Linked DNA regions of Homo sapiens: all the other regions are linked to region 3. Evidence: fine-mapped expression QTL. A gene starts in region 3. Each other region holds a variant in brackets. All regions are shown on one strand. Distances are from middle to middle.

Region 1 (6,249 bases), 70 kb before region 3:
TTCACTTAATAATACAAACCTATTATATGTTAACATAACTAAGGGATAAAGACAAAAGCAAAAATCAGTCCCAGTGCCAGGGATAAATGTTAAGATTTTGATGTATTTGCCTTGTCTGTTCACTGTGTGTGTGCCTACTGGAATCACACCTCATACACTGTCGTCTTTTTCACCTATCAGTAAGTACATTATATCATTTAAGATATTTCAGCCAGGCATGGTAGCTCACTCCTGTAATCCTAGCACTGTGGGAGGCCGAGGCGGGTGGACAATGAGGTCAGGAGTTCAAGACTAGCCTGGCCAAGGTGGTGAAACCCCATCTCCACTAAAAAAAATTAGCTGGGCGTGGTGTCACGCACCTGTAATCCCAGCTACTTGGAGGCTGTGGCAGAGAATTGCTTGAACCGGGAGGCAGAGGTTGCAGTAAGCCAAGATCATGCCACCGCACTCCTACGTGGATGACAGAGCGAGACTCTGTCTCAAAAAATATATATTTCAGCTGGGCATGGTGGCTCATGCCTGTAAACCCCAGCACTTCAGGAGGCTGAGGCGGGGGTGAATCACTTAAGGTCACGAGTTCAAGACCAGCCTGGCCAACATGATGAAACCTTGTCTCTAATAAAAAAACAAAAATTAGCCACAGGCGTGGTGGCAGGCGCCTGTAATCGCAGCTACTCGGGAGGCTGAGGTTGCAGTGAGCCAAAATCGCGCCACTGCACTCCAGCTTGGGCAACATAGCGAGACTCCGTCTCAAGAAAAAAAAAAAAGATATTTCAAAAGCTTCAGCTTTAATGGTTGCATAATGGTCTGTCATAATTTAACAGTTCCTTTTTTCATAGATTTTTTTTTTTTTTTTTTGAGACGGAGTCTCGCTCTGTCACCCAAGCTGGAGTGCATTGGCGCGATCTTGGCTCACTGCAAGCTCCGCCTCCCAGCTTCATGCCATTCTCCTGCCTCAGCCTCCCTAGTAGCTGGGACCACAGGCACCCGCCACCATGCCCAGCTAATTTTTTTGTATTTTTAGTAGAGACGGGGTTTCATCGTGTTAGCCAGGATGGTCTCAATCTCCTGACCTTGTGATCCACCCGCCTTGGCCTCCCAGAGTGCTGGGATTACAGGCGTGAGCCACTGCGCCTGGCCCCTTTTTTCACAGATTTTCATTTCTGGTTTTTCTGTGTTATAAATAACACTTTTAGGAGCATCCTTTTACATAAATCTTTGTCCATATATGTTTATTTCCATAAGAAAATTTTCTGAAGTTAGAATTTCTGGGTCAAAGATTATGAACATCCCTTTCTGGCTCGAGGCTATATATTGCCAGCTTGTCCTCTAGAATGAGTGTGACAGTTTATACTCCCACAGCAGAGCTGGAGACAGCTCTTACTTCTGCCTCCTTGCTAATATTGAATGTTGTCCTTTTTTAGTTATTTTCCAATTTTATTCAAGTCTTTTCCAGTTATATAAGTATACACTGTTATCTAATTTTAAATTGTATGTCTTTTTTTTTCTTTTTTTGAGACGGAGTCTCGCTGTGTTGCCCAGGCTGAAGTGCAGTGGTGAGATCTCTGCTCACTGCAAGCTCCACCTCCTGAGTTCACGCCATTCTCCTGCCTCAGCCTCCCGAGTATCTGGGACTACAGGCACCTGCCACCACACCTGGATAATTTATTGTATTTTTAGTAGAGACAGGGTTTCACTGTGTTAGCCAGGATGGTCTTGATCTCCTGACCTTGTGATCTACCCACCTCGGCCTCCCAAGTCCTGGGATTACAGGCGTGAACCACCGTGCCCGGCCCTATGTCTTTTTTTGAGACGGAGTCTTGCCGTGTTGCCCAGGCTGGAGTGTAGTGGCACAGTCTTGGCTCACTGCAACCTCTGCCTCCCGGGTGCATGCAGTTCTCCTCCCTAGGCTCTCGAGTAGCTGGGATTATAGGCACATGCCACCAATCCTAGCTAATTTTTGTATTTTTGGTAGAGATGGGGTTTCACCATATTGGCCAGGCTGGTCTCAAACTCCAGTCTGCCCACCGTGGCCTCCCAAAGTGCTGGAATTACAGGCGTGAGCCACCGCACCCAGCCAAACTGTACGTCTTTGATCATTAATGGAGGTAACTGTCTCAATCCAACTTGCTACAGTAATTGCCTTTAAAATGGACATTATGGCCAGGCACATTGGCTCAGGCCTGTAATCCCAGCCCTTGGGAGGCCAAGGCAGGAGGATCACTTGATGCCAGGAGTTCAAGACCAGCCTGGGCAACACAGCAAGACCCCCGTATCTACAAAAAAATAATAAATTAGCCAGGCGTGGTGGTTCATGCCTGTAGTCCCAGCTACTGGGGAGGCTGAGGAGGGAACATCACTTGAGCCCAGGAGGTTGAGGTTGCAATGAGCTATGATCACACCACCACACTCCAGCCTGGGCAGCAGAGTGAGGCCCCATCTCAAAAAAAAAAAGACTCCTTCAGAGTCGTCTTGGAAATAGTGCATGGCTGCCCAGGGAGAGCGCAGAACGCCATCCCCAAAGCTCCCACCCCAGCCTTGTGCAGGGAGGAGGGGCCTGTGTGGAGGAGGCCTCAGGTGAAGAACGGGATCTGGCGCACACCCTGCTCCTCGGCAAGGGCCGCTTCACGCTCGCCATAGGCCGTTTTCTTATTTCATGAAACAGGCCTCACGTACCA[C/T]TTGCCAATCTGCTTAAGTATCCTAAGCTGCTTCCTCTGCCCGTTTGGTATTGATCTTCATGTTTACATAATGGCCTCTTGCATGTTTTTGTTTTTAAATAAAGGTGGCTTGGCTAGGTAGGGGTCTACATGTCTTAAAAACCATGCAGCTAAACCCAGCAACAGAGCACCTAATAAGGTCAGGCTGCACGGCAGGGCACCCATCAGGTGCAGGTGGTCGGAAAGATACCACCCCCCAGGTAAAGCCGTGGCTCCCACCATCAGGAGAAGTCAGACTTTCAGGAAGAGAGAGCTCCCTCAACCGCCATGCTGCTGTCCCCGTCCTTCCTGCCACTGGTCACCTGGAGAGGGGATGAGGGTGAAGTAAAGGCCAGAATGAATGAAAGGCTGCACTTGGTGTGTCACCTGGGCGACAGAGCAAGACTCCATCTCAAAAAAAAAAAAATTGTTTACCTTTAAAGTTATTTCATCTTTTTAGACTGCAGTGATGTAAATACAGATTAAAGGAAGAGTAATGGTCATCATTAAAGGCCCCCAGCCTGAACTGCGCCCTTTGCTTTCAGCTCGCAGATTCACTGGTGCCCATGGAGATCAAGCCTGGCATCTCCTTGGCAACTGTCTCGGCCGTGCTGCACACCAAAGATAACAAGCACTTGCTTCAGGTAGGGGGTGCTGGGTGGGAGTGCAGGGGACCCTCTCCCCAGCAAGAAACCAGACCACCTAACAGATTATATTTGAAATAGCGCTTCATGTGAATTCTTGTTGAAGAATTATTTCCCTGGCCATGTGCCTCAGAGAGGCTGCTGTGCCCAGAGATGAGGCCGCACGTCATCCCAAGGGCTGCCACAGGCACATTCTGTTGGGGAGCGCTGCCACGCGAGGCAGGGCTGTGGGGAGACGTGCAGGGTGGCAGGTGCAGCCCTGCCCTTGGGGGCTGGAACCGGAGGGCACCTGCGTGAGGCTGTGGCTACCTGAGAGCCTGGTCCTACCAATGACCCACACACAGGTGGGTGGCACTTCAGCTCCAGGGCAGGCACTGTGTCTTAAGAATTCCTTTCAGATCTGGACTGTGTCACCTTTATGCCACATGTAGAGTTGCTCCTAGCTACCACTTAAAGTCTATTAGACCCTGTGCTGGGTCCTTGACCCGCCTTGTCTTACTGAGCCGTCAGAATTCACTGCTGTCATCATTTCGTAGGCAGCTTCTCTAACCTTGGCCAGATGGTGGCAAAGGTGGGGTTTCCCCCTTTGGTCTGACCCCACAGCCAGTGTGCCCAGCCACGGGGTCATGATGTACCTGCAGCACGACACAGTGTATTCTGGAGAATTTACTCAGCAGATACTGAAGTGAACCACCTGAAAATTTAAAAATGGATCTTGATAGAAGGCAGAGATCTTAGCGAATAAGGTGTTGGTAGGCTGGACAGTTGAGCATTAGAGCGCGTGGATCTGGGGCTCCCGGCAGCCAGGGAACCTGAACCGAGTGCCGGCTGAGGAAACCGGGCCGGGGCTCTGTGGCCTGTGAGGACAGGATAGTCTCAGGCTCTCAGTGTGGCCTGCGGTGGCCCCTGCTGCTCAGAGGAAGCTCATGAAAGCCACTCTTTCCTTCTGCTCTAGCCCCCTCCTCGGCCCGCCCAGCCCACGAGCGGGAAGAAGAGAAAGCGGGTGAGCGATGACGTACCAGACTGCAAAGTCCTGAAGCCTTTGTTGAGCGGTTCCATCCCTGTGGAGCAGTTCGTGCAGACCCTGGAGAAGGTGAGCTGGTTTCGCTGGTGCCGTGAAAACTCCACACGTGGCAGCCTTTCCCTGGCTCACTATGGCCCCCTGGCTGCAGGGAGTGGATGTTGCTGCTTGTCACTTAGTCCCCACTGTCCTGTGGCATCTGTTTGGTCTAAGGTCCTGCTGGGAGACCCAGGAGAAAGAAAGCAGAGTGAGGAGTGCCCCATCCTTCCTCCCAGCACGAGGTCACCAGAAGGCCTCTCCAGACTGAAGAAAAAGCTGCTTCCACACACACATGTGACGAGTGGGGCAGGGTAGTGAGGCCAGGACAAAGAGGGACCCGGCCCTGCCAGAGTCTTGCACTTCCACAGATGACTCCTTGCTGTCAGAGGGGAGCCAAGTCTCCAGTCGACTGTCAGGATTTGCAGGAGGCAGTCGGGGGAGGGGACACTGGCCCTTCCCCTCTGTCTCAGCAGCCCTGATGGCTGCTTCTCCCAGAGATGAGATTTCTTGACTATGATTAAAAGAAAAAAATCTAACCTTAAAGGTTGTAATTTTGGCTTCAGTCACAGGACTTCAGAGATGACTTTATTAGGATTATAGAATCTTTGATAGGAAGAAGGAATTGGCTAAAGGTAATACTGTTCATGCTGCTGCTTGCAAGAACTGCAACAAATTACAATCATTACAAGGAAGGAGATTTCTATGAACTTTCTATCCAATGTAAATATCACAGTTGCCGACTTTCAAATCTTAAAGGCTTTCCCTTTCCTAGGATTGGTTTTCTCCACCTGTCTTTGATTTTCCCGTAGGGAAAAAGGCTCTGGCTGGGTGGTTGCGGCTCTCTTCCACCCTCCCTGAAGACCTTGCAGGGCTCCTGGGCCCTGTTAATGGGCCTCAAGCTGGACTTTTAAAAACTTAAGATGAGGACCTTCTGCCTGGCCCAGCCTATGTCCTGACCCAGTGTTCCACCCCGGCTCCTCTCTGCAGAAGGAGCAAGCACCTGTCCAAGTCCCTAGGGGAGCCTGCAGCCATGAAGTACAGGTGGCCTCCCCACACCGAGGCCCTTCACCTGCTGTGTGTCTGTTTCAGGCACATGCCTCCTTTCCATGTCACGTCTGATTTGTAAGGAATTTCTGTCCTTAGCATTAGCAATAGCTGAGAAGTTTGCACTGCTGCCTTCTCTCCTTCACTCTTGAGAGGGCTCTGCCAAGTCCCACAGGGGTATCTTGGTGTCACCTGGCATTTTCCTGGGAGCTCAGACAGCTGAAACTTAGGAGGGAGCTGTCACCAGGGAACGGCATGGTGCAAGCAGCTGAGCGTCCCAGACTCCTGAACACAGTGCTTGGACGTGCCCTCAAAGAACTCACAAAAGCTTAGCCAGGTTGTGGAAATTCTGTTGTTTTGCATGAGCTTTTGCATGTTTAGGGTCTCTTTTCAAGTATAAGAAACTATCACTATCATAGGCCTATGACTAGTCTGAAGAATTGTGTTGAGACGTGTCAGTTTCTAGAAAGTTCAGTCGAGTCTGTGAAGTGTCATTTACAGATCTCACAGATGTGCAGTCTGCCCAGCCCACCTCTTTCTTTTCTTCTGGAGCAGCATGGCTTCAGTGATATTAAGGTGGAGGACACAGCCAAGGGCCATATCGTCCTGCTCCAGGAGGCTGAGACGCTCATCCAGATTGAAGAAGACTCGACCCATATCATCTGCGACAATGACGAGATGCTCAGAGTGCGACTGCGGGACCTTGTCCTCAAATTCTTACAGAAGTTCTGAGTGGGCCATCTGAGCTACTTCCCTGAAATCCTGCAGTCCCTCACTGGCTGCCCTCACAAGCCACCTGAGGAGT
Region 2 (5,000 bases), 36 kb before region 3:
GGCAATTCAGAAGATAAGTACATCCTCAAGGTATGAGTAGACGCTGCTAAGATCAGTGGCTCCTTCTTAGCTGAGCAAGTGTGAAAATCTTGGCCAGTTGCTGACACCCTAATCCTCTGACTCTACTTGCAATCCTCAGTCCAAACAAGGCCCACCGAAGGAAAGGAAGTCCTGAGGTGAAGTGCAAGAATGGGATGAGTGTATCAACTTCACACATTAAGTTTTTAAAAGAAAAAGAACAGCTGAAAGTTTAACGACTGCTTAGGCTGGTTCAAACGTCCCTATATGTCAGGCACGGTTCCTCACATCTGTAATCCCAACACTTTGGGAGGCTAAGGCGGGCAGATCGCTTGAGTCCAGGAGTTCGAGACCAGCCTAAGCAACATGGCGAAACTGCATCTCTATAAAAATTACCAAAAAAAATTAGCCAGGTGTGGTGATGCGTGCCTGTAGTCCCAGCTACCCAGGAGACAGAGGCAGGAGGGTCACCTGGGCCCAAGAGGTGGAGGCTAAAATGAGCTGAGACCCCACCATTACACTCCAACCTGGGCGACAGTGAGACCCTGTCTTAAAAAATTAAAAAAGTCCCTATAAAAATGAATTTTATTGTTCTATTTGAGGTGACTGGCAAGATGCCACCATCTGAGATGGGAGATATGTAAGGGAGAAAAGACTTCAAGGAGCTAGGGAGAGACGGTGAGCTTTCCTGGGAAAAGTTTACCTGAAGTGTCTGAGGGACAAACGGGAGATATGCTGGAAACAATGAAATATACAAACGCAGACCTCAGCAAGAAAGGCCAAGGCTGGAATACAGATGAGGAAATTACCAGCCTGCAGATGCTAAGAAAAGCCTCAAAACCTTGTGTGTGAGACAGAACGCCTAGGGAAAATAAGAAGAGCAACAGAGGCTAGACCCCGGGACACTTCACCATTCATGCAGAGAGAGTGGTGGGAGGGTCTTCCGTGAGGACAGTGGAGGCACCAGAACCATGGAGGGCATGGATGCAGACAAAGAGAAGGAGGCAGGTGCCACCGTCTTTGGTGACTGTCAGGGCACGATGAAAAGGCTGGTTGATGGCAGCAAGACAGACGACAGGAGCTGCAAATGAGACTTTATGTGACAGCTGGGAGGGAAGTGTCATTGGTAAGCAATGAAAATGTTCCCTACACCTGCCCTGTGCCAAAGCACAGATGTGGGGAAATGAGTGCCTCAAAGTCTACAGGAAAAGGCTAATGGGAGCACTGTCCTCAGAGAAGACTCAGGGCACAGAAGAGGTGCTCTGTGTGGTGGGCAGTGGGGGTAATGCCAGGGTAATCTTAGAACAGGGACTCCTCAGGGCCCGGGAACACTTCAGGAGGGAGGTAGAGAGCGGCACTCACGGACACAGAAGGCAAACCACATACAGCACTGTAAACTTTCTAGAAGCTACATCGTTAAAAAGTAAAAAGAGACAGTAAAAATCAATAACTGTATTTAACCCAGTAATCCAAACTAACTGCATTTCAAGATGCAATCAACACAAACAATTACTGAGCTATCTGACACCCTTTGTTACAAGTTTTTGAAAGCTGTTGTGCACTTTACACTGAACAGCACGTCTCCATTCTGACCAGTCATGCACCAGGTGATCAGCAGCCACTTGTGGTCAGGGGCCACTTTACAGGATGGAAGAGGTAGAGAGGGAAGATGGGCCAGGAGAAAAAAACAGAATACAGAACAGTAGAGGAGGAAAGACTGCAGGGTCCTAAGCTTCAGATATTCAGTGAAAATCAGATTAGGAGGCACAGTGAAAGTAATAAGCACTAAAGCATCACAAAGAACTGGCAGAGCCACACAGAGGCTCATCGTGGGGCCCGGGACAGGCATGGTATATCTAAGTCAGAAAAGTGCCCAGGTCACCTTCTGATGGCTGGGCCATATCTAGGGTGGCAGTGTTAAAACTGGAAGGTATTTGAGGTGTCTTT[A/TA]GCCCAGTGCCCTCAGTTTTACAAACGGAGAGCCAACGCCCAGAAAGATAAAGTGGTTTCCAAATGGCCTATGTGCAACTGTACAGGCAGCCCTCTCATCTTGACTTTTTATCCCAGAGTTGCTCTAAGCATCTTGATCATTGTCTGTAAAAATAGAAAAAACTGACTTCTAGCACAAAAGAAACATGTAAGAAGCGTTAGGAGAGCTAAGCTGAGGGCAGCATTCCGCTACCACACAAAGGTGAAACTCTCACCAAGTCGATGCCATTATTACCAGCTTTTTCTTACCTTGTGAAAGAAGGCAGCACCTGTCAGCACCATGGACAGCTCACAGGAGTAGTTGGAGTTGTAGAGCCAGGACTGATGGGGGATGTCCCATGCGTGGTAACGGCCAGGGAAGCCCACGATGCGGTCCCGAGCTTCTCTCCACACCCTTGAAAAACACAAGTGCATACACAGACCTGAATACAGAGCTCTAGGGTCATCAGAAGTGTTCACAGTTATTGCCTCCACCTTACAAGCTCTGGCCCTTAGGCTTTTACTTCTCGTATCCTTTCAAAATAAAACAAAATCAACAACAAGCCAAACAGGATAAAAGCAAATAAGGTATCATATTCAGCTTCCTTAATAAGCACCTGCACATTGTCCCTCTAGCAGTCAGCATCCTCCAGCCCTTCCAGAAAGAATAAGCCCTAAGTTTGGAAAGGGGATCTCCAGAATGGGGTATGTACAATATCTACTAAGGAGGGCTCCAGAATGGGGTATATACAATAATCTACTAAGCAGCAGAAAGATGATATCAATTTCAATTCTTTTTTTAGCTTATTTAATTTCCAAGAAAGGGCTTGGTGGGATGGCTCATGCCTGTAACCTCAGCACTTGGGAGGCCAACACAGGAGGATTGCTTGAAGCAAGGAGCTGGAGACCAGCCTGGGCAACATAGCAAGATCCTGTCTCTACAAAAAAAAATTTTTGTTTGTAATTAGCTGGGTATGGTGGAGCACACCTGTACTACCAGCTACTTGGGAGGCTGAGGTGGAAGGACTGCCTGATTCTAGGAGTTCAAGGCTGCAGTTAGCTATGATTGCACCACCTCCCTTGGCCTGAGCAACAGAGCAAGATCTGGCTCTAAAAATGAATGAATGAACAAGCATTTTCTAAGAAAGGCTTTGTTTTTAATAAGCATGACATATTAGTTCAGAAGGACATGTATGTAATTTACATATATTGCACACTTTTCTTTTACAGAGAAGGAACATAATAAAAAGGTTTAGAGAGCACTGGTTTAACCACAGAAGACTACTGAACTGCACCACTCCTAATTCCAAATTTGAGCAGGGCTGACGGAGAAACATGTATGATGAGAAGTGGCCTACAGAACCATACAACTGAAAGGTTTCATTAAATGGAAGAAATAAATGGAGACTTCAGTATGTTTCAGTAGAAACTTCTATATCATCTCCAAATTTATAGGTAAATTAGAACAAATAAAATTGGTCCCCAGTTTCACAGGATAAATTGGAGAACTGAAAGCGTTTAAGCTCCACAGGACCTGACAGGCCTGCAGAAAGGCTGCCAGAGATTTAAACTGCCTGCAAACTCCCTCATCACTTACATGGAACTTCAGTTCCTAAGACACAGAAGATTTTATTTCAACAGAGTTCCTCTCCTAATAAGTCTAGAAGCATCTAATCTAATCCAAAAGAGGAGAAATCACAACTTCTATCACAATGTAACAGCCTTCTAGGTGGGTTTTTTTAGACAACTGATTTTTTTTAAATTGTGGCAAAACAAACATAAAATATACCATCTTAATCATTTTTAAATGTATGGTTCAGTGGCATTACGGACATTCACAGTGTCGTGCAACCATCCCTGCCATCCATCTCCAGAACTCTTTCATCTTCCCAAACGGAAACTCTGTCCCCATTAAACACTAATCCCCACTCCCACCTTCCCACAGCCCGGCAGCCCCTATTCTACTCTCCGTCTCTATGAATGACTACCTAGGGGCCTCACATAATGGAACCACAGTATTTATCCCTCTGAGTTGTTTGCACTTCTGTTACGAATAACGCTGCTCTGGCCATTTGTGTATTCCTTTCTGTATGGACACATGCTCTCAAGTCTCTTGGTATACCTTTTCTGTCCCTTATGATTGATTGTATCTGCCTCTTTCTTGGCTACCTAAGTTGAAGTGAGTCAAGATCTATCTTTGCCAGAAGAAAGAATTCTTAGACTTACCCTTTCCTTTGAACTTAGGTCTGTTTCATTCCCATTAAGGTGAAATAAGCAAATTGGGGAGATTAATAAGAGAAAGGTTTTAGATCAAAGGATGCCCAAATGCATGAGAAAAGGGTCAGGGTAGGAAAAGGTTAGGATGTATAGACAGCAATGATAATTCACCAGCTCCATTACCAGAGGCTAAATCTCAAACATGAATGACAGTTAAGAGACACATTAAAAGGCTTCCCATTATTCTCTCACCACCTGCAAATCTGCTGGAAAATAGCACGGGCAAGGTAAGAAGTCCCTAAATCAGGGGCTTGGAAGCTATGTTAATGCCAGCTATGTTAATAGGCTTCAAACTCCTTAAAGCTGGGCTCCTTATCAAAATCATTCTTGGATCTAAGGGTTGGCAGTTCTCCTGTTAACACTCCACGACTATGCTCACCACGCCAGTCCTTCGGCACGCTCCAAACTGCATCACGCTGCAGCATAAACACACTCCCTACCGCCCACCCCCACCACTACCACCTGCAGCAGCAAAGATCATGCCTGGAGTTACTGCATGGCTTTTTTCCTTTCATAAAAACAAGTGGAGAGAGTCAGCTACTATTATCGTGTAAAAAAAATACACCTCGGTTTACCAGGATTTTTTTTTTAATCACAGCTGTCAATAGACTTGGTTCAATAATACACTAAGCAAGAGGTCAAAGGAAATGTGAGAGGCTGGGTGGGGGAGAATAAGAACAGATGTTCTAATTTTTCAGAAATGTGTCAAATCATTCTTTACAGATGGATTTAAGACAGAT
Region 3 (6,249 bases):
AAGATCACAGGTTTTTTAAATCCTGCTTCTCTTCTCCCTAGTAACATCACCCAAGAGGTCTGAATGACTGAAAATTTAAAAGGACTGTGCAACTGGTTCAGGCAAGAAAAGAAAAGATGAAGCTTACAGGTGAGCCCACCTCTGTCCCTCTTGAGCTCACAAACTCTCTCTGCCTGGGCTATGCTATTTCCATGAAACCTCCAAACGTGAAAAATCCTTTCTTCCCTCTCAGTCAGCTGCCCTATCATTGAAAGTCTTCGAAATGATAGTTGCCGAAATGAAGGGGTAACAAAAATAAAATAGAAATATGTTAATAGAAGTTTTCTGAGCTAAACTTAATAACCAGCGAATGGAGTAGGCAGTTTTAGGACGTTATGAAACGTCCTGGTTTCATATTCCTCGCCTCACTCTAGAGTAACATACAAAGGCGCTCGAACCTTTACCAAGAGTAGGTCTGATGGGACTTCATTTTTCTCCTAACACCTGAGTCTACATCAGGGAATCCCTCCCACCCTCCTCCAGAAGACCACCAGTCTCAACTGAGACAAGGACTCCGCATCACTCCTGCAGCCCCTCATCACCCATAACCCTCCAATCCACAGCTGGCCTAGGGCCCTGCGGAAAAGAACAGGTCTCTCTCTAGTCTTCTGCTGGCTTCAAACCACCCTCTGGACTTGCCCTCTCTCCTAGAAATACATTTCCCATGCTCGGCCTGGCCCGACTTACTTCTCTCCAAACTGTTCCCTTAAAATCTTTTTACTCCGAGGTCAAAACTCTTGAGGCCTAATCACTGAAAGATCCCAACTACACACCAAGTATTAACAGGGTTTTCCCCCACTAGAAAAGCGAGAAGTGGAGGGATACAGACATACGCCTGTCAATCATTTTTTAGGTAGGTATGCCCCTCACATCTCTGGACATTAAGCACGTTTCCGGAAGTCTGAAGAGCCACAATTCTGACTCTTCCAGAAAGCACTTAGGCTCGATTCTCTCTTGCTCGTGAGTTCTTATGATTCCTCCGGCTCCCCACAAGCAAACGAATGGGAAATTCCCACAGGATAAGGTATTTTTAACACATCAAATAACAGTTTAAGAAAACGGTTTTTCTTTCATCACAAAATATTTCAAAGTCCCTCTGCTAAATAGCAAGTCGCTGAGAAGGCTTCGCTTCGCTCCAGACTCTGTGCCCCGCAGTTACTATCCCAGCACACAGGTCACAGCGATAGTCACTGTATCAGAATGCAGGACTCACTGCCGAACAAAATACAGAAAACTGCAGAGTCTGCATGGCTGCAACACACAAAGCCTTTAAAAACAAAAGAAAGCACGGGGAGCTCTGCCAGTAAAAATGAAGCTACCTAAATTGGACAAAGAATAGGACAAAGTGACAAGAAATGCTAAAGACGACTCTTAAGTAAATCACATATGGGGGAAATAATGGACATGTTGTGGTGTTCTGCGCTTCCTCCTCCACCAAAGGAGTCGAACCAAGAGGACTTGATGAAGCTTTTAGAGTTTTTAAAAAGGGAAGAAAAATCCAGGTTGCGGGGAAGGGCGGGGGTGGGGTGGTGCGGGTGGCGGGGGAGGGGCAAAATCCACAAAATTTAAGTCTTCTGAGAGCCAAACAGATTTTATTAATAAAAGGAGCCGAAGCTCTCGCTCAATGTGGGGAAGAGAAAGCAGCACCCATCAGCAGCCGGGCAGCCCTGGCTCGCCTCCGAGGGGCTCGGAATAGGTGCTGTCCCCGTCGCTGGGCTCGGAGCTCCGCCGCGCACACACGCCCCGCGCACCCCTGTCCGGTCCAGCCCGTGCAGCGCGAGGCCGGCTCTAGGGGAGCTGGGCCTGGGAGCCAGGGTCCTGCAGCACCTGGACCCTCGGACAGGAAGCGGCTCCTCTGACTGTGGCTCCTGAAAGGAGGCGAGCCCGGCAAAAAGAGCCAGCGGGGAGGGCAGCAGGCGACTGCGTGTAGAAGCGGGGGGCAGATGTGGGAAGGTGTGCTCGGGAAGGGGTGGGGGTAGTCCGGAGCTGCGCCTCCGCCGACAGAAGATGCTCCGGGCCAGCAGCCAGAGAAACGCCGCGGGTCACAGAGGGTGGAGGGCTTCAGGGAGCAGAGGAAGCCCAACAGCTGCAGCCGAGCGTCCAAAAAAAGGTGGAGGCGGGTCCCGAGCAGCCCAAACTGGGACGAGAGAGGGCGTGTGGGGGCGGGGAGGGGGTGCCCCAGCCCAGGGACCCGTTAGCCCTCCCGGCTGCCGGCCGAGGGCCTGGCGGCCTCTCCCCGGGCCCCCGAGCCACCGGGCAGGCCTACTCCGCTCGGAGGCTGCATGCCTCCCGCCGCCGGGCAGCAGCAGCCTCCCCGGGGCACGGCGGACCCGGTCCCTCCCGCCGCGTCCCCAGCGCTCGGGGCCAGCCCCGGCACCCTCCCATGAGCCCTTCCGGGCGCGGCCCCCGCTCCTCGGGCTCACGCGCGGCCAGCAGTCCTACCGGCTTCCAGCTCAGGGACCCGCCGCCGCCGCCGCCGCCGCCTGCGCGAAAGTCGGCGTCCCAGAAGCCGTTCTGGCTGCCGGCCGCCCGCCTTCCAGGCCGCGCCTGATCCGCCGCTCCCCCTGCCGGCCGGCAGCCATTTCCGACAGGCGACTGCGGAACTTGCCGAAGGGCGCCGCGCCGGAAATGGCCGAAGCCGGCGTTCGCGAGCGGGGGCGCGGACGCGGGCGCGCGCTCGCCACTTTCCCGACCGCGTCCGAAGACCGCCGAGGCCTCCCGCAGCTCCGCGGTGACACCCGGGTCAGGGGCGCGGGGCCGGGCGCCGGGGATTGTGGGAGGCGCGGGGGGGCGCGCCGGCCGCCTTCGGAGCCCCCCAACTCGCGTCCTGCAAAGGCCGCCGGGCCCTGTCGAGAAGACCCGACCGCAGATGGCGGGGAGGATGCTCCCGGCGGCGTGGGAACCGGGTCTGACTCCCGAGCCACCGCCGCTTCCGCAGGGGCGCCGGCCCCGGGAAAGTCAAGTCATAAATCCCTGAATCTAAAACTCCATTCTCAGAGAAAAGGCCTCCAAGGACGGGCGCCGTGCGCGGCAACTGCCTGCAGTTTTGAAGCCCTTTGACTATTTCATAACAAAGACAAGGCCGGGCGGCTTGGACGCTTAGGAAAATCCTGGGGCTTTGCAAAAACAACAGGTTAATCTAGTCGTGTGGGATGATCACCAAAACAAGACAGGAAAGAAGAACACCGTGTCAATGCTGAAAAGCCAGCCCCTGTGAGCCCCAAAGTGCACGTTTTCCACAGTCCCAAGGAACACGTGACTGTGTGTTTCCACACTTGAGAAGTCAGGATAAGACCCCTTGGATAATGGAACAGGGGATGGGGGTGGGAGCAAGCACCCTACCTGGTCACCTGCTTAACTTAGAAACCAGCTTTTAAAACCTGTAACTGCAGTATGAGCTACGATCAAATTTGTCTTAACGTATTTTTTTTAATGTTTTTAATACCCAGAACACAGGGCTTCTACTCCAGGGTTTCCTCGCCAGGGAACCCCAAACACACAGGACCTGGAGAAGCCGGGTAGAGCTGGCTCCTGGCCCTGCGCTTGGGTGGTCGGCTGCCTTAAGAAGAACTGCACCCCAGAGACAGGCTCGCAGCTGCCGACCTTATCCACTCGCCCTTTCTGCTGGAGCCCAGGCCCAGTGCTCCAGCAAGGAGGCTGAGAAAATGCTGAAGACTGATGCCCACGGGGGACAGCTTGGGCTAAGGATAACGTTTGCAAAACAAACCTTTAAAAACCCATAGCAACCTGTTTCCTAGAGCACACTCTTCATCTCTCCACCCCCAAACTAGTCCCGACTCGGATCCTCCTTTTCCTATCCTCTTTCTCTTGCTCTCCCGTCTCCTATTCACTTTTCTTCTCCTTTCCTCTTGATTATTATAAACAAATGCTTTCCAAGTCTTACCGCCATCATATGTGTACATATGCAACCCTTACTGTTACCAATTTGTTGAAGTCAAGACAGGAGGAGGCAAAGTTTAAAAATCAGAAGTATTGCAGGAAATGAAAATGGAGTGAGTGTTGCCTGGGTATCATAATTTTTTTTTTTTTTTTAACAGTTCCTCTACTTGGCTCTCCTCCAAAGGTACGCGGCCACAGCAGGCAGGGGCTTGGCAGTGTGGGAGGAGACACCACAGAAGACAGGGAAGAACTACCAGGCCTTGGTTCATCTCCACACTGGCGAGAGAGGACGTGCAGTTACCTGCTACCTGTTCGACTCAGTCTTTTACGTTGGAGTAACTTAACACATTGCTGCCCTTAACTTTGACTTACTTGCTTTTAAAGATGATGAAGCTGGCCAGGCGCCGTGACTCATACCTATAATCCCAGCATTTTGGGAGGCCCAGGCAGGTGGATCACGAGGTCAGCAGTTCAAGACCAGCCTGGCCAACATGGTGAAACCCTGTCTCTACCAAAAATACAAAAATTAGCTGGGCGTGGTGGCGCGTGCCTATAATCCCAGCTACTCAGGAGGCTGAGGCAGGAGAATCACTTGAACCCGGGAGGCAGAGGTTGCAGGGAGCCGAGATCGCACCACTGCACTCCAGCCTGGGCAATAGAGCAAGTCTCCATCTAGGGAACAACAACAACAAAAAGATTATGAAGCCTTAGGAAGAACAGGGATATTCACCTGCTGCTGAGCCCCCCTCCGCTTTGATCTTGTGAGTCTGCACTCTCCTGCTCCCCTGTCTCAGTCTCCTCTAGCTCCTGTTCCTTCTCCTACCTTGTGTTCTCTGCCAATGATATGACTGGGGCTACTTTCTTTTTTCCTTCTCACACTCTCTTCTTGCTAATTTCAACCAATTTCCCTGCATCATCTCCACCTGCAAGCTGGTCCTTTACAGCAGAGCTTGGGGCCCTGCTGCCCAGTAGCACTCTGGACACCCTCACATCATCATCATCATCCTATTTTTATTTATTTTTTGGAAACAGGGTCTTGCTCTGTCGCCCACACTGGAGTGTAGTAGTGCAGTAGTGCGATCACGGCTCACTGCAGCCCCGATGTCCCTGGGCTCAGATGTTCCTCCCGCCTCAGCCTCTGGAATAACTGGGACCATAGATCCCTTCCACTGTGCCTAATTTTTGTTTTTTGTTTTTGTTTTTGTTTTGAGACGGAGTCTCACTCTTCTTGCCCAGGCTGGAGTGCAGTGGCATGATCTCGACTCTCTGCAAACTCTGCCTCCCGGGTTCAAGTGATCTCCTGCCCCACCCTCCCGAGTAACTGGGATTACAGGCACGCACTACTGTGCCCAGCTAATTTTTGTATTTTTAGTAGAGACAGGGTTTCACCATGTTGGCCAGGCTGGTCTCAAACTCCTGACCTCAAGTGATCCGCCCACCTCGGCCTCCCAAAGTGCTGGGATTACAGGCATGAGCCACCACGCCCGGCCTAATTTTTGTTTTGTTTTGTTTTTTTGTAGAGACGGGGTTTCAACCATGTTGACCAGGCTGGTCTCAAATTCCTGAGCTTAAGCAATCAGCCTGTCTTGGCCTCCCAAAGTGCTAGGATACAGGCGTGAGCCACCACGCGGGGCCTTCATCACCCTATTAATATATACTTTCTGATACTTAATTGCCAGGCAATAAGCTAAACCCTTTTATTCACTGTCTCACTTTAATCCTTACAGGGAAGTATCGGCTGCCAGATAGGGAGCTGAGACTTCAAGAAGCTAAATAAGGTGTCCAACACCACAGAGCATGGAGCAAAGGACACGGGACTGCAAATCTTCCTAACTCGTGTGCTCATCTGGCTATCTCACCAGGGCCTTAAATTTAATATATCCCAAACTGAACTCATCTTTACCCCTTCCCACTTTGCACTCCTCAAATGTCCTTGTTTAAAATAGTTACCTTTATCTTTCCTAACCCAGAAACTCAAAACCTGGCATCATCTTTGACTTCTCTCTTTACCTTCACATTCAACAGTTTCCAAGACTTAAAGGCTTTATTTGTAGGATCTCTACCACTGATCCTCTACAGTTTCACACCTACATCCCATTCTCGTTCCCAAATCCCCATAACTCCTCTCCTGGCCCATCCCTTAACACTGAAATCCTGGCTTGGAAAATATGGTCACATTCACAGCAGCTGTCCCCAAGAAGGAAGCCAAGGCAACAGTATGCACAATGAAGTGAGTCTTCACTGATCTCTCCATATTTTGACATTTTACAGCACTTATTATCTCTACTTTGTATTTTGAAACTGAATCCA
Region 4 (6,249 bases), 86 kb before region 3:
TCCCAGCCCCCCATGCCAGGACCACCACAAGCCTGTGCTGAGGGTTTGGCTTCCTCTCCTCTTTGGTGTTCTGAACGGGTGCTTCACAGCCTGGCTGCTCTGTGCTCAGCCTCAGGCCCGGCCTGCTGTTCCCTATCACTCTGGTTCCCTGGCTCTGTGCTTCCCGTTCTCAGGGGTTCTGCTCTGGCTTCTACATGGTCCTGCTTTGATGCCTGCAGAAGCCCAGCCCCTTGCTGTCCAGTGTCTGCCCTTGCTCCGAGCTAAGGGGCTTGGTTGTTTGGGTTGGTTTTGTTTTTGCAGGGGATGGAGATGGGAGGGAATAGCTCTTGAAAGACCTCTCTGATCTTTTGGAGTTTGGAGTGTTGGGGTTTGGAGTGTTGGTTGGTTGGTTGGTTGGTTTTTGAGACAGGCTCTCACTCTGTCGCCCAGGCTGGAGTGCAGTAGCACAATCACGGCTCACTGCAGCCTCAACCTCCTGGTCTCAAGCGATCCTCCCACCTCAGCCTCCTGAGTACCTGGGACTACAGGTGTCACCATCATGCCCAGCTAATTTTTGTACAGACAAGGTTGCATCTCGTCTGAACCCATGAACTCCTGGGTTCAAGTGATCTGCCCGCCTTGGCCTTCCAGAGTGGTGGGATTACAGTCCTGAGCCACAGTGCCTGGCTCTGATCCTTTTTTGAACAAGCAGTGGAAGAGTGTGCGGTACCTGAGGTCTGGCCATCAGGGAGCAGGAGGGTCTGTCACATTCCCAATTAGAGATAAACCTAGAAGCGCCATTTATTCTTCATTCTTCCTGATAATCTGGTATACACAGATCTCCTTTTGAACTCTAACAGCTACCCCCAGAAGAAGCAAACTCTAATCAGGTCCTTCAGCCTCTGTCTTAGAAAGGGGGTGGGTCCCTGTCTGCTGTGCCTGCATGAGGATTCTAGAGCAGAGTATGGAGGATCTGTTAGCAGAACTGGCCTAAGCATTATGTAGGTGGGCTTCACAATCTCTAATCATATTGTAATCTCTTCTGTATCCCTAATCTCTGCCTTTAATGCATGTAGGATAATGTCCTTTGGAACAATCAAAATAAGTTTAGAACCAAGCTCTTATATTTGTCTCCCTGAGCTAGAAATAAAGACAGAACTAGTGTCTATTTAGATAATATAAGGTAACCCTCCAAAAGCATCTTGCTCTTCCATATTTATATCTTCCAAGTAGGGTATAAAGTGATGTTTTTTTAAACCAAACTTAAACGAAACTAAGGGTAGGAAAAATTAGATACAATGTATTAATACAAAATCCAAGCCCTGAAGTCCTGAGCTCCTCCCCTCAAAGTAGTGACTATTTTTTTAAATGTCAAACCTGCACAACACCCACATATATTGATTTATCAACTGTGAACTTTTTGCCACATTTGCTTTATCCAGACATCTCAGTATTGTAAAGTCATAACTGACTAGGAAAAAGCAAATGTAAATTACCAAAAACATTCACATTGTCTCTAGCCTGTGATCCTTTGTTCTTCTCTAGTTGGAGTTACCAATGCTGCTGTTAAAAAGAGTGTGAGGGCCAGGCACAGTGGCTCACGCCTGTAATCTCAGCACTTTGGGAGGCCGAGGCGGGTGGATCACCTGAGGTCAGCAGTTTGAGACCAGCCTGGCCAACATGGTGAAACCCCGTCTCTACTAAAAATACAAAAATTCGCCGAGTGTGGTGGCAGGTGCCTGTAATCCCAGCTACTTGGGAGGCTTTGGCAGGAGAACCACTGGAACCCAGGAGGTGGAGGTTGCAGTGAGCCGAGATCGCGCCATTGCACTCCAGCTGGGCAACAAGAGCGAAACTCTGTCTCCAAAAAAAAAGTGCATGGACAAAAACAGAAGCCATGTCTCAAGGTGTAGATCACTTTCTTTGTGAAATTGACCACAACTAAATGCAATATGATACCACGGATTGGATCCTGGAACAGAAAAGGGACATGATTGGAAAAACTAGTGAAATCTGAATGAAGTCTGGAGTTTAGTTGATTGTCATTGGCCTGATGTTAATTTCTTAGTTGACGACTGTGCCAGTCATATCAGATGTTAACTCTGGGGACATAGGGTGAAGAGGCCATGGAAACTCTGTACTGTCTTTGCAGCTTTTCTTTAAATCTAAAATTATTCCAAAATAACAAGTTTATATTTTAAGAAAAAATGTATTGAGAAATTCTAAAGTTTAAAAACATACAAGATACATCTCTTCTCTGTAGGCACTGGATTTCATTCACAGTGAAATTCACTGGCGGGAAATTTTTAAATAAACTTCAGTATTTAATATTTGCACTGCTGCCACTAGGTGGCAACAGATGCCACCGTATGCTCTTCCTCACATGCTGATGTGTTTTTCCTCTTTAATAGGCTTTGTCACAACAAACAGAGTAAGGTGTATCTTCCAGAACCACCTTTTCCTCATGCAGAGGTAAGAAAACAAAATCACTGGGACATGGGAAGGAAGCAATGTGGATAACCTGATGCAGATGCAGACAGCAGGTCGTTAGATGAAATAGATTGCTGTGTAAACCTGTAGACCCCTTTGCCTCCCAAGTCAGACACAGGGAAGTATTTTAACTCAAGCTTCACTTGCTTTCCTCCTATTAACACTTTCTATTGCGCACGTGGAGCAGCCCTTCTCCAAAATGTTGTGGACCGCAGAATTGTTTCAGACTTGGGATTCGGGAATATACTTACTGGTTGAGCATCCCAAATTTGAAAGTCTGAAATCAAAATGCTCCAATGAGCATTTCCTTTGAGCATCATGTTGGTGCCCAAAAAGTTCAGATACTGGAACATTTTGGATTAGGGATGCT[C/T]AGCCTGTACCATGTTCATGCAATTCATAGCCTGCTTCTGTTCTACTGACTGCATGATGAATTGTATTTCGATACATATTACTACCTTTTTAAATTGGGTTTATGTATTGTCAGAGTGTTCTTTCCAGTTATGTCAGTCATATATGTACATTTTTAGTGACGAAAATAACATTTCAGTTCAACAAATAAAAGGCTTCTTCCTCCCTCACAGAACAAATGGGTGTTTTCTATATAGCTGAATACCTAGCTTTGTTGTCAGGTTCTTTTCACCCAAGGGTATATTATGAACGTTTTTCTGCGTCTCATGTTATTATTGCTCTACTACAATGAAGCTAACAGACAATAGTTACTCCTCATTTTTGGTTATATTTTCACTCAAAGATTCTCTAAATTGGTATCACCACCTTAGAAAACTGACAGTATTGGCTGGGCTCGGTGGCTCACGCCTGTAATCCCAGCACTTTGGGAGGCCAAGGCGGGTGGATCACAAGGTCAGGAGATCGAGACCATCCTGGCTAACACAGTGAAACCCCGTCTCTACTACAAATACAAAAAATTAGCCAGGCGTGGTGGCGGGTGCCTGTAGTCACAACTGCTCGGGAGGCTGAAGCAGGAGAATGGCGTGAACCTGGGAGGCGGAGCTTGCAGTGAGCCCAGATCGCGCCACTGCACTCTAGCCTGGGTCACAGAGTGAGACTCCGTCTCAAAAAAAGAAAAAAAGAAAACTGACAGTATCTGCTAAAGCTGAACAATGTACTCTATGCCTCCGCAGTTTTGTTCCTAAAGTATACATTGAACAGAAATGCATAGAGATGTTACCAAAAGACACACACACAAATCTAGAATTTGGTCAGGTGCGGTGGCTCACACCTATAATCCCAACACTTTGGGAGGCTGAAGTGGGAGGATCACTGGAGGCCAGGAATTTGAGACCAACCTTGACATCATGGCAAAACCCTGTCTCTACAAAAAAATACAAAAAATTAGCCCGGTGTGGTGGCACATGCCTGTAGTTCTAGCTACCCTAGAGGCTGGGGTGGGAGGATCACCTGAAGCTGAGGGAGTTCGAGGCTGCTGCAGTGAACTGCAATCGTGCTACTTACTGCACACCAGTCTGGGTGACAGAGCAAGACCCTGTCTCAAAAAAAAAAAAAAATCTAAAATTTTTGGTAATAGTACTGAAATATACTCAAATTCCCATCAACAATAGCATGGATTTTGTGGTATACTCACACAGTCCCTTACATCACTGTGAACAAATAAGCTCCAATTATATGCAGTGTAGATAAACTGCACAAACATAATGTGAGTGAAAGATCCAGATATAAAAGAGTAGATATGGTATGATTTTATTTACATAAAAGTTCAAAAACACAATAAACTGATCTGTGGTATTAGATGCCAGTGTGGTAGTGATCCTGGAGGGGAGGGGACAGTAGTGACAGGAAGGGGACAAAGAGGGATTTCTGAGGAGCTAGTAATGCTTTATTTCTTGATGTACATGTGTTCACCTTGTAAAAAATCCATCAAGGTGTACAGAGTTAGATATAAGGAAAGAGTGAAGGCTGGAATGAATCCTGTGCTGTTGGATAGAATTGATGGTATTGGTGTGAACTCCTATTTTCAATATATGTAGATACAGAAAGAAATCCACTTGTGCATGTGTGTGTATGTGTGTGTCTGTGCACATACGTATCTTCCAGCTCTGGCCACACAGAGGGCCTGGGAGCAGTGACATGCCACTAACTGAGGAACACATTTAGCTCCCACATGTTGGTTTCTAGATACCATTCTCCACTAAAAGGAACCAGGCCTCTTTGGAAAATACAAGATGAGGCTGTAAGATCTTGCTGTATGCTCAGAGAAAGATGGGGACATGTCAGAAGCCACATCTGAGGTCACTGGAACATCAAAATAAATAATGCTAGTAATGAATATAATCCACTGAATAACAGAAACTCCTGCATCCATAGTGAGGTAACTGAGTACATAGGCAAGAGGGGAAAGTTCTTCCAACAGTAAACTCATAGTTAACATAGGAAAGAACCTTAGAATTAGAAAATCACCATTTGGCAGCCACCGCAGTAATAATTTATTCCTGCAAGAAACACCAGTGGGTGCTAAAACCAGTGGGTGAAAATGTTATGAAGAACTAGATCATTTATAGTCCCAAAAAGTATGTCCCCACAAAAGTCATGTTTATTACAAAGACAGAAATAGTAACTGGAGTTTGGACAAACTTGACATATGCAGTCAACGTTAACATCACCAGTAATTGGACTAACTGACATTGCGTGGCTCTTAACACAAATTATTGAGAAAGCAGCATGATTTCTGTGATCCTGCTGCTAAAAATGCTTCACCTGAATCTAGTGAGCATTCAGACCCAAGTCGAGGATGCTCAACAAAATAACTGACCTGTACCCTTTGAGAATGTCAGAGACCTAGAGGACAAGGGAAGACTGAGGAACTGCCGAGAGAATGAAGAGATGTGACAGATAGATGTACTCCATGGCCATGGGCTGGATCTGGAAATGGAAGAAGAAAGATCTAGTTTGTTTGCTATTAGGAGCATTGATAACAGTTGGTAAAGTCTGAATCGGGTGTGTAGATGAGAGGGGGCAGTGTTGTGTCACTGTTCATTCCCTGCTTTTGATGGTTGTACTGTTATAATACATCCATGTTAACTGCGATTATCTCCCCACACTCATTTCTTTGATTGTCATATTTATAACCCCTCCTCAACTAAGGCAGGTAGACTGTTTTTACTTACAGCATGTCAGTGCAGATAGATATGTTTAGGGATTTAGTTGTTTTGTTTTATAGTTAACTAACACGTATTTCAACAAATGTCCTGCTAATTACTTTAAATGTAATTGCTGTTTTCATACTGTAAAGGATAGGTCTTTTATGAACCAGGATGCCAAGTAGAAGGTTTTGAAGAAGTTATTTTTTGGTCCCTGTAGTCTAAATAGTATTTTGGCAGCCAGGGTTTTTGCAAGCTGTGTCAATGCCATAGTGAAACACAGGCTAGAAATATTATAAAAATGTCAGAAAATTAAGTGTGGCAAAACATCTTGTGGTGGACTTTGCTCTTGAATGTCTGTTTTGCTTCCTTTGCAGTCAGCCTTGCTGTAGAGCTTGTTTTCTAGGAGTGTGATCACATTCTCACTCACACACCTGTCACAAATGACCTGGTGCCATTTAGAGTTAGGAATGTGAGTAGACTGTGGTCGTACCATGAGGGTTCCTCAGGTGCACTTGTCGTTGTTAGGGCATGAGGGAGTCAACCCTTGGTAATGTTACCAATGCCCATGAGAAACGGTGGTTCCACCCTTAGTACTGGTAACAAATTACTGTTCAGAATTCCTGCCCCACAGCTTCATTTCCACTGGTCAAATGCAGTAAGT
Region 5 (6,053 bases), 51 kb before region 3:
AACCACCGCACCCAGCCTGTACTCTTTCATAAACGTCAAGACAGATGAAGAAAGGTAAAACAATTTGCCTAAGCTGTGATTTCTAAGTGACCCTCTTCACTTTGTCAAAGCATTCATTCATGAGAAAACTATGGAACTCCTGTGTTCTTGAGAGGCTGCAGTCCGGTGTGGGAGGCAGAGCAGTGGCCAGCACACAGCATGGTGAGGCGACAGAGCGTGGGGGCTCTAATAGGAGGTGAGCAGGGCACTCAGCCAGGCGCTGGCGCTCAAACCTAGCGGAAGGCAGAAAGAGCCATGAAGAAGTGGACACTATTTTACTCCAGTAATAGTTCATTTTTATTGTGTCAAACAGTGGACTCTACGTATATTATATTATTTAACTTTTAACATATGCTTAAGAGATGGGCACAACTTTTGCCACCGTATGGTGGGATTAGAGCCTAAAATAGTAATAGATAACTTGCTCTCCACCAGTGTGATGGGCAGCCCAAGATCTGCACCCAGTCTGTTCCAGGGCCCAGACCTTTACCCACTACATTCTCCTTTCTTCTTTTCAGTATCTTCATAACATTCTAATTTTTTTGTAGAGATGGGGGTCTTGCTATGTTGCCCAGACTGGTCTTGAACTGGCCTCATGTGATCCTCCCACTTCTGCCTCACCAAATGCTGAGATTAAGATGTTAGGCACCACACACCACCATCAACATTCTTCTTAACACATTTTGTAAACCTTGTGGAGCCTTCCACTTCAGTGATGATCCCATCAACAGCTAACATTTACCACCTTGGCAGACCGTAAGTCCAAGACACAACTCGACAGGTATAGACTCAAAGCAGACATCATATCTCTGTGTATAGGAAGACACATTTTCTACAGCCTCATGCCACCTTCTCAAGTCTCTCTGGTCCCAGGACAATCGTAACATGGAGATGGATGGCTGGAAGAACAGGAGCTTGACAGCCAAAACTCCAGACCCAAAGAGGAATGCCCCTCGATGACATCTCACCCATCAGCTGCTGCAAACTTGCCTGATCAGTCGTGAACCCCACTTGAGGAGGGACACCGACTGTTAAGTCTCACCCATTCTTAGGACTGTCAGTGTGACCAAAGCTGCCACCTGCAGAGCCCAGGAGAGGAGTCCTCGCCTTTACCCCCTTTCCCATCTCCATCCTTCTCCCCGAAGCCCACAGCTCAGTGCCCTCTCCTGAGGAAGCCTCTGATCCCACAGCCAAGCACAAGATCTAGGCCTGTGGGCACCAACAGGATGGGGCTCTGCAGTCAGGGAGCGTCAGCTCGGTGCAGGTACAGGTGCCTTAGTGACCTATAGGTCAGGGGCATGACCTATGGACCGAATCGAGCCATTCACAGTGAGGCCTCACCTGTCCTGGGATCGCAGGCACACACAGCTCCCCACAACCACTACACACACACACACACACACACACACACGCATTTTAAATTCCCATGAAAAAATTAACTTTGCATATATGGGCCACATGCCCTTCCACATCCTGCTTAAAGCACCTCAACAGCCCCTAAGTTCCTGTTTTGTCAAAATGACTTGCCCTGGAACCGGGCACAGGCAAGGCTGCCCATGTGAGTGTGAGTCTGTTCACCCATCTCTGGTCCACAGCCCACACCAGGGCCTGGTCAGGCTGCCTCCCATCGTCTTCTGCGAGCAGGCCCAGCTGGCATACACAGGTGGCGACCTGGAATCAAGCAATCAAGCAGGTGCCTTCTCTCAGGTCACTCTTCCATACTTGCTGAGGAAAACCACAAAAGACCTCCAAGCTGCTTGAGTTAAAGTCTCCATTTATTTTTATTTTTTTACAAAAATCCAATGTAAGACCATTGTGCTCGTGACGAAAAGGGGTGGGGTGGATGGACGTGGCATGGATATCAAAGCTTCCCCCCACAAACTAGGAGCTCCCCACTCTGTCCGGCGCAGCTCCCAGAAAGATCCCATCCTTCCGGACAGGACCCCAGCTGGTGAGCCCTGGCCTGAGGCACAGTCCACACGGAGGAGCACTGCCCAGGGAGCCAGCGCTCACAGTGGCCTGCAGAGCCCTGGGACGGTGTTATGGTAAGACAGCCCAAACCGGAGCAGCAAGCCGGCCACCCAGAGAACGAGGCGCTCCTGCACCCTGCGAGCCAGGACAAGGTGGCCAGGGGCGGCCCACAGACAGCCAAGGAGACCCGGGGTCTGTGGCGCCGCTTTCCCATCTCAAGCGAGTCACAGGTCGGCGGCTTTCCCGTGGTGAGAAGCACCTGACCAGTGACACTGTGGCCACCTTGCTGCCTCTCGCTGAGGAGGGCGTGCCCCTCAGAGCCTGTCTGCAGTCCTTCAAGCCAGTGTTCCTTTCAGGGTCAAGGAGGGCTGTCCTTGTTGGAAGCACCGGCACCACAGCCCTCCCTGCGGCATGTTTTGGTGTCAGACCACTCAGCCCTTCTTAGATCCACCAGTGACATTCGGGGCCCGACAACCTGGCTCCACTAAAGGGAGAGGCCCTGGCTCCACCACACAGACGGCCCCAGCTCACTGAGTCCCGCTAAAGGGGGTCCCACCACACAGACGGCCCCGGCTCACCGAGTCCCACTGAAGTCAGTATGTGAGTTCCTCACATTAAAAGAAACCAGATGAAATAGCAGCCACAATATAGCGCCACACACCACACTCTTTGGCTCCCCGAGGGAAGAAGGCTACTGCTAAAAGGAATACAAGTCAGGAGTCAGGTAGAGGGCAACTAGAAAGTTCTGAGGAAGGGCGTCTGACCCCCACTGCTGGGAACATAACCACACTGCCTCAGCAGGGGAGCTACAGGCTGATGCTGGGGTTGGGGGCGGGGAACCTTTGGAAACACAGTCCTGGCGGCGGCCGGGTCCGGTTTGCCAATGGGGAGAGTTCCCTTAAGCCGAGCTAGCCCTACAGGTGGGTGGGAGCTACACAAAAGAGCCCAGCTTCAAAACAGTACTTGAAGAGGACCCACGTGGTACAGGCAGGTCAGAGGAGAACGTATTCCAAGAAATAGAAGCACAGGATGCCAAGGTCTAGGGAAGACGGAACTGGCTTAAGGCATGTGCATGACCAGGACAAACCTGAGCTTTTGTTCAGTTGCTAGAAAACTTCCAGAGTCAACTCCACTTCCAGAAAGTAGGGTTCAAGAAACACGTCATGGGCTAAATCCCTGACAAATGCCACTCACACCCTCCTAGGTTCCCCTACTGCCACCGTGACCCAAAAAATTAGCTTATTTCAGTTTCAGCCCAGGGAACAGAATCCTAAGCAGGGAGTGGAAAGTGGTAACTCGGGTTGTGAATGCCCGTTAGATTCCAAGGCTGGATGTGAGCTTACACAGCAAATCACAGCCTCCCATTGTTCTAGCACATACCAAACCTCGGGGAGTCCTACAGCCAAGCTGACATTAGGGGTCCAAAAACCACAGATAACACAGGATGGGGCTCCAGACAGAGGCGGGGGGAAGGTGAATTTCACCAAGGAATTATCCCAAGGCAGGCGCCTTGCTGTAAAACTTCCCGGCCAGCCGGGTGGGTTCCTCGAAGGACACTGGCTTGCTCTACACTAGGGAGAGGAGGCTGACCTGCAAACCACTTCAGACCACAGCAGATGTGCACGCTGCTGATCTCCTGTCCAATCCAAGAAAGAGCACTTCAGAAACGCCTGAGGCCCACAGCACGTGTGTTTCAACAGAAGAGCAGGATAGAAAGAGCCATCTGGGAGTGGCGTCTTCAGCCCCTATTCTTTCTCACTCTTTGCTTCCTCATTCTCTCTCAAACAAGAGAGAAATGGGAGAGCAGGGATAAGTACGGAGGCAAGCCTGGCCTAAAGATAAATCCTCAAAAAT[C/T]GCTGGCCCCAGCAGCAGGAAGCTGAACAGCCCACCAGGGTCAGGCGCTCCCAGGGATTCACTGGGAAGAGAATGTGAGTTACAGGTTGCTGACTGGCAACAGAAAGGGTAAGGAAGAGACCTTGTCCAGGCCCGCAAGAGGGCCAAGTTCATCCCTTTCTGGTTGCTGCACACAGATGGCGCTGGGGAGGATGGGAGATGATCTTTAAGGATAAGCCAGTGACACAAGGCCAGGACCCATCTCCGCCAGAATACAGAACAAAGGAGCCTGCGCGGTCCCTCCCTTAGAAAGGCAAAACTCACACTCCCCCAGCCAAAAATATATATGTATGCAAGTGTGTGCATGTATTTATATACACACACATATATATAAATAAGCCTTGAATGGCAAATCTGAAACTTTCTCTTTTTAAATAATCATAATAGTTGTTATTGAATGTAAAAACCACGAACCAGCTGTCCTGGGCGTACGAACGGTGTGAGTGACTCTGCAGAGTCGCCACAGTCCTCAGTGTAAGCTATCAGTCAGTGCCCTGTGTGGGGAACCCCGGGGACTCCGCCCAGGGCTCCAGGCCCAGTGTGGCTGACTTCAAGATAAAGGCAGCGGTTTCCTTCCACTCCTCCTGCTGCCCCTTCCAGCAGAGGCTCTGGGCCACCCACCAGCAGATGTGCCCAAGGTCCTGCAATGCCTAGGAACCTTGGGAGCCATCTTCCTCCCTCTGCTCATCCTCTTCCCCAGACCGTGCGCTGCCCCTAGATGAACTTGAAGCACTTGGTCTTGTCATGGGGCAGGCGTGTCTTGAAGAGCACAGAATCCACCCTGAACTGCGTGTACAGGAGGGGCATGTAGCCGTACACCTTCACGAAGAAGTTGATGCACTTGTGCCGCTCGTGGAAGTGGGAGTCATCATGAGACAGGGCCTGAGGGCATCCTGGGCATCGGAATGTCCACCGTGAGGTCACCTGGAAACGGGAGAGAGAGACAGAGTGGGAATCCCAGCTAATACTGACAGAACCCTTGCAGCTGAGCCGATCCCACACTCCCATGTCCATGGTGAAGACGCTGATCCCCTCAGGGGCAACATCCCTGCAGAGCATGGCAGGAACCAGAGCCCGGCCCCAGGCCTCCTGCCTACCAGATGTCTCCAGAACATTGTCAGGTATTCTGTTGAGATGGCCTACGCTTCTCAGATGCCAAAAGCCTTAACGTGTGTAGTGTCAGCTGTCTCAGTAAGTCTACTCCTAGTATGTACTTGGTTGCAGAGCCATAGGTAGGTACCGAGTTGTTTGTTTCATCAATGTTTTGAATCAAAATATTGAAGACTACCCAAAGAGGGGCTTTGGGTATTGAAGACTACCCAAAGAGGGGCTAGTCAAAGAGGGGCTATCATTCTTGAATACTGTCCATAAAAAAGATGCTTAACTACATTTAAAGCCATGGGAAAGTGGCCATACTACAGTCTAGTCATATTATTATTAATTAGAAAATGTCTAACTAAAAAAGTATGAAGAGGGACAGCTTCATTACAATGTGGCAGGCCGAATGGCATAAAAACCCCTCAGAACACCTGAACATGCAAGAAGAAATACATAAACCATCTCTTTAAATACAGGGCAGAGCCTGTAATAAGAAATGAAATTACCTGGTGATTAATTCCAGCACTTTGGGAGGCCAAGGCAGGAAGATCGCTTGAGCCCAGGAGTACAAAACCAGCCTGGGCAACAAAGCAAAACCTCATCTCCACAAGAGATAAAAATATTAGCTGCGTGTGGCAGCAGGCCAGCTATCTGGTGTAGTCCCAGCTACTTGGGAGGCTGAGATGGGAGGCTGCTTGAGCCCACGAGTTTGAGGCTGCAATGAGCTATGATGGTACCACTGCACTCCAGCCTGGGTGACAGTGAGACCCTGTCACTCACTCACATACATACATGCATGCATGAATAAACAATGAATAATGAATGAATGAATGAATGAATGAATGAATGAATGAATGAAATCCTCAGAGGCCAAACAATGAAAAAGCAAATCCTGCAAGATAGCCATGAACTTGGGTTTTAAATGGGCTGGAGAAGTGACACCTGCAAAGCGGGCTGGGGGCCTTTGGAAACACTGGCTCCATGGAGGGGAGCAGGGAGGGGTGGACGCCTCACAAAGAAAGATGGGGAAGAAGTGTCTTTAAATTTATCTT

Direction of the effects. Positions count from the first base shown, and alleles are read on the strand shown. Sizes are in standard deviations (SD) of each study's normalised expression. Not every link is listed here.
For the expression in tibial nerve of the gene that starts at base 2,640 in region 3, allele C in region 1 goes with a lower level than allele T (small effect, 0.17 SD a copy in GTEx).

What was found. PIP is the estimated chance that this variant, and not a neighbour inherited with it, causes the effect. A credible set is the group of variants that fine-mapping cannot tell apart.
Region 1: its variant is the best candidate, but not a certain one, in a credible set for the expression of EXTL3 in tibial nerve (GTEx, PIP 0.89).
Region 2: its variant is the best candidate, but not a certain one, in a credible set for the expression of EXTL3 in atrial appendage (GTEx, PIP 0.53).
Region 4: its variant is the best candidate, but not a certain one, in a credible set for the expression of EXTL3 in whole blood (TOPMed, PIP 0.56).
Region 5: its variant is the best candidate, but not a certain one, in a credible set for the expression of EXTL3 in whole blood (TOPMed, PIP 0.82).

Annotation. Positions count from the first base shown.
Region 1 is chr8:28,768,073-28,774,321 of GRCh38, reverse strand. It overlaps INTS9 (integrator complex subunit 9), which reads left to right. Exons shown (of 17, transcript NM_018250.4): 15 at 3,242-3,340; 16 at 4,296-4,433; 17 at 6,000-6,249. The coding sequence ends at 6,176. Among named protein-coding and RNA genes, the nearest start is that of EXTL3, 70 kb to the right of the region's middle. The variant C/T (reference allele first, on the strand shown) is at 2,679.
Region 2 is chr8:28,734,917-28,739,916 of GRCh38, reverse strand. It overlaps EXTL3 (exostosin like glycosyltransferase 3), which reads right to left. Exons shown (of 7, transcript NM_001440.4): 5 at 2,254-2,398. Among named protein-coding and RNA genes, the nearest start is that of EXTL3, 36 kb to the right of the region's middle. The variant A/TA (reference allele first, on the strand shown) is at 1,966.
Region 3 is chr8:28,697,892-28,704,140 of GRCh38, reverse strand. EXTL3 (exostosin like glycosyltransferase 3) reads right to left here and starts at 2,640. Exons shown (of 7, transcript NM_001440.4): 1 at 2,482-2,640. EXTL3-AS1 (EXTL3 antisense RNA 1) reads left to right here and starts at 2,677. Exons shown (of 3, transcript NR_126027.1): 1 at 2,677-2,781; 2 at 4,098-4,700; 3 at 5,667-5,738. RefSeq lists silencers at 2,072-2,481, 2,582-2,651, 2,722-2,901.
Region 4 is chr8:28,784,031-28,790,279 of GRCh38, reverse strand. It overlaps INTS9 (integrator complex subunit 9), which reads left to right. Exons shown (of 17, transcript NM_018250.4): 11 at 2,391-2,451. Among named protein-coding and RNA genes, the nearest start is that of EXTL3, 86 kb to the right of the region's middle. RefSeq lists an enhancer at 1-358. The variant C/T (reference allele first, on the strand shown) is at 2,840.
Region 5 is chr8:28,749,431-28,755,483 of GRCh38, reverse strand. It overlaps EXTL3 (exostosin like glycosyltransferase 3), which reads right to left. Exons shown (of 7, transcript NM_001440.4): 7 at 1-4,827. The coding sequence ends at 4,618. Among named protein-coding and RNA genes, the nearest start is that of EXTL3, 51 kb to the right of the region's middle. RefSeq lists enhancers at 1,824-2,766, 2,767-3,711. The variant C/T (reference allele first, on the strand shown) is at 3,865.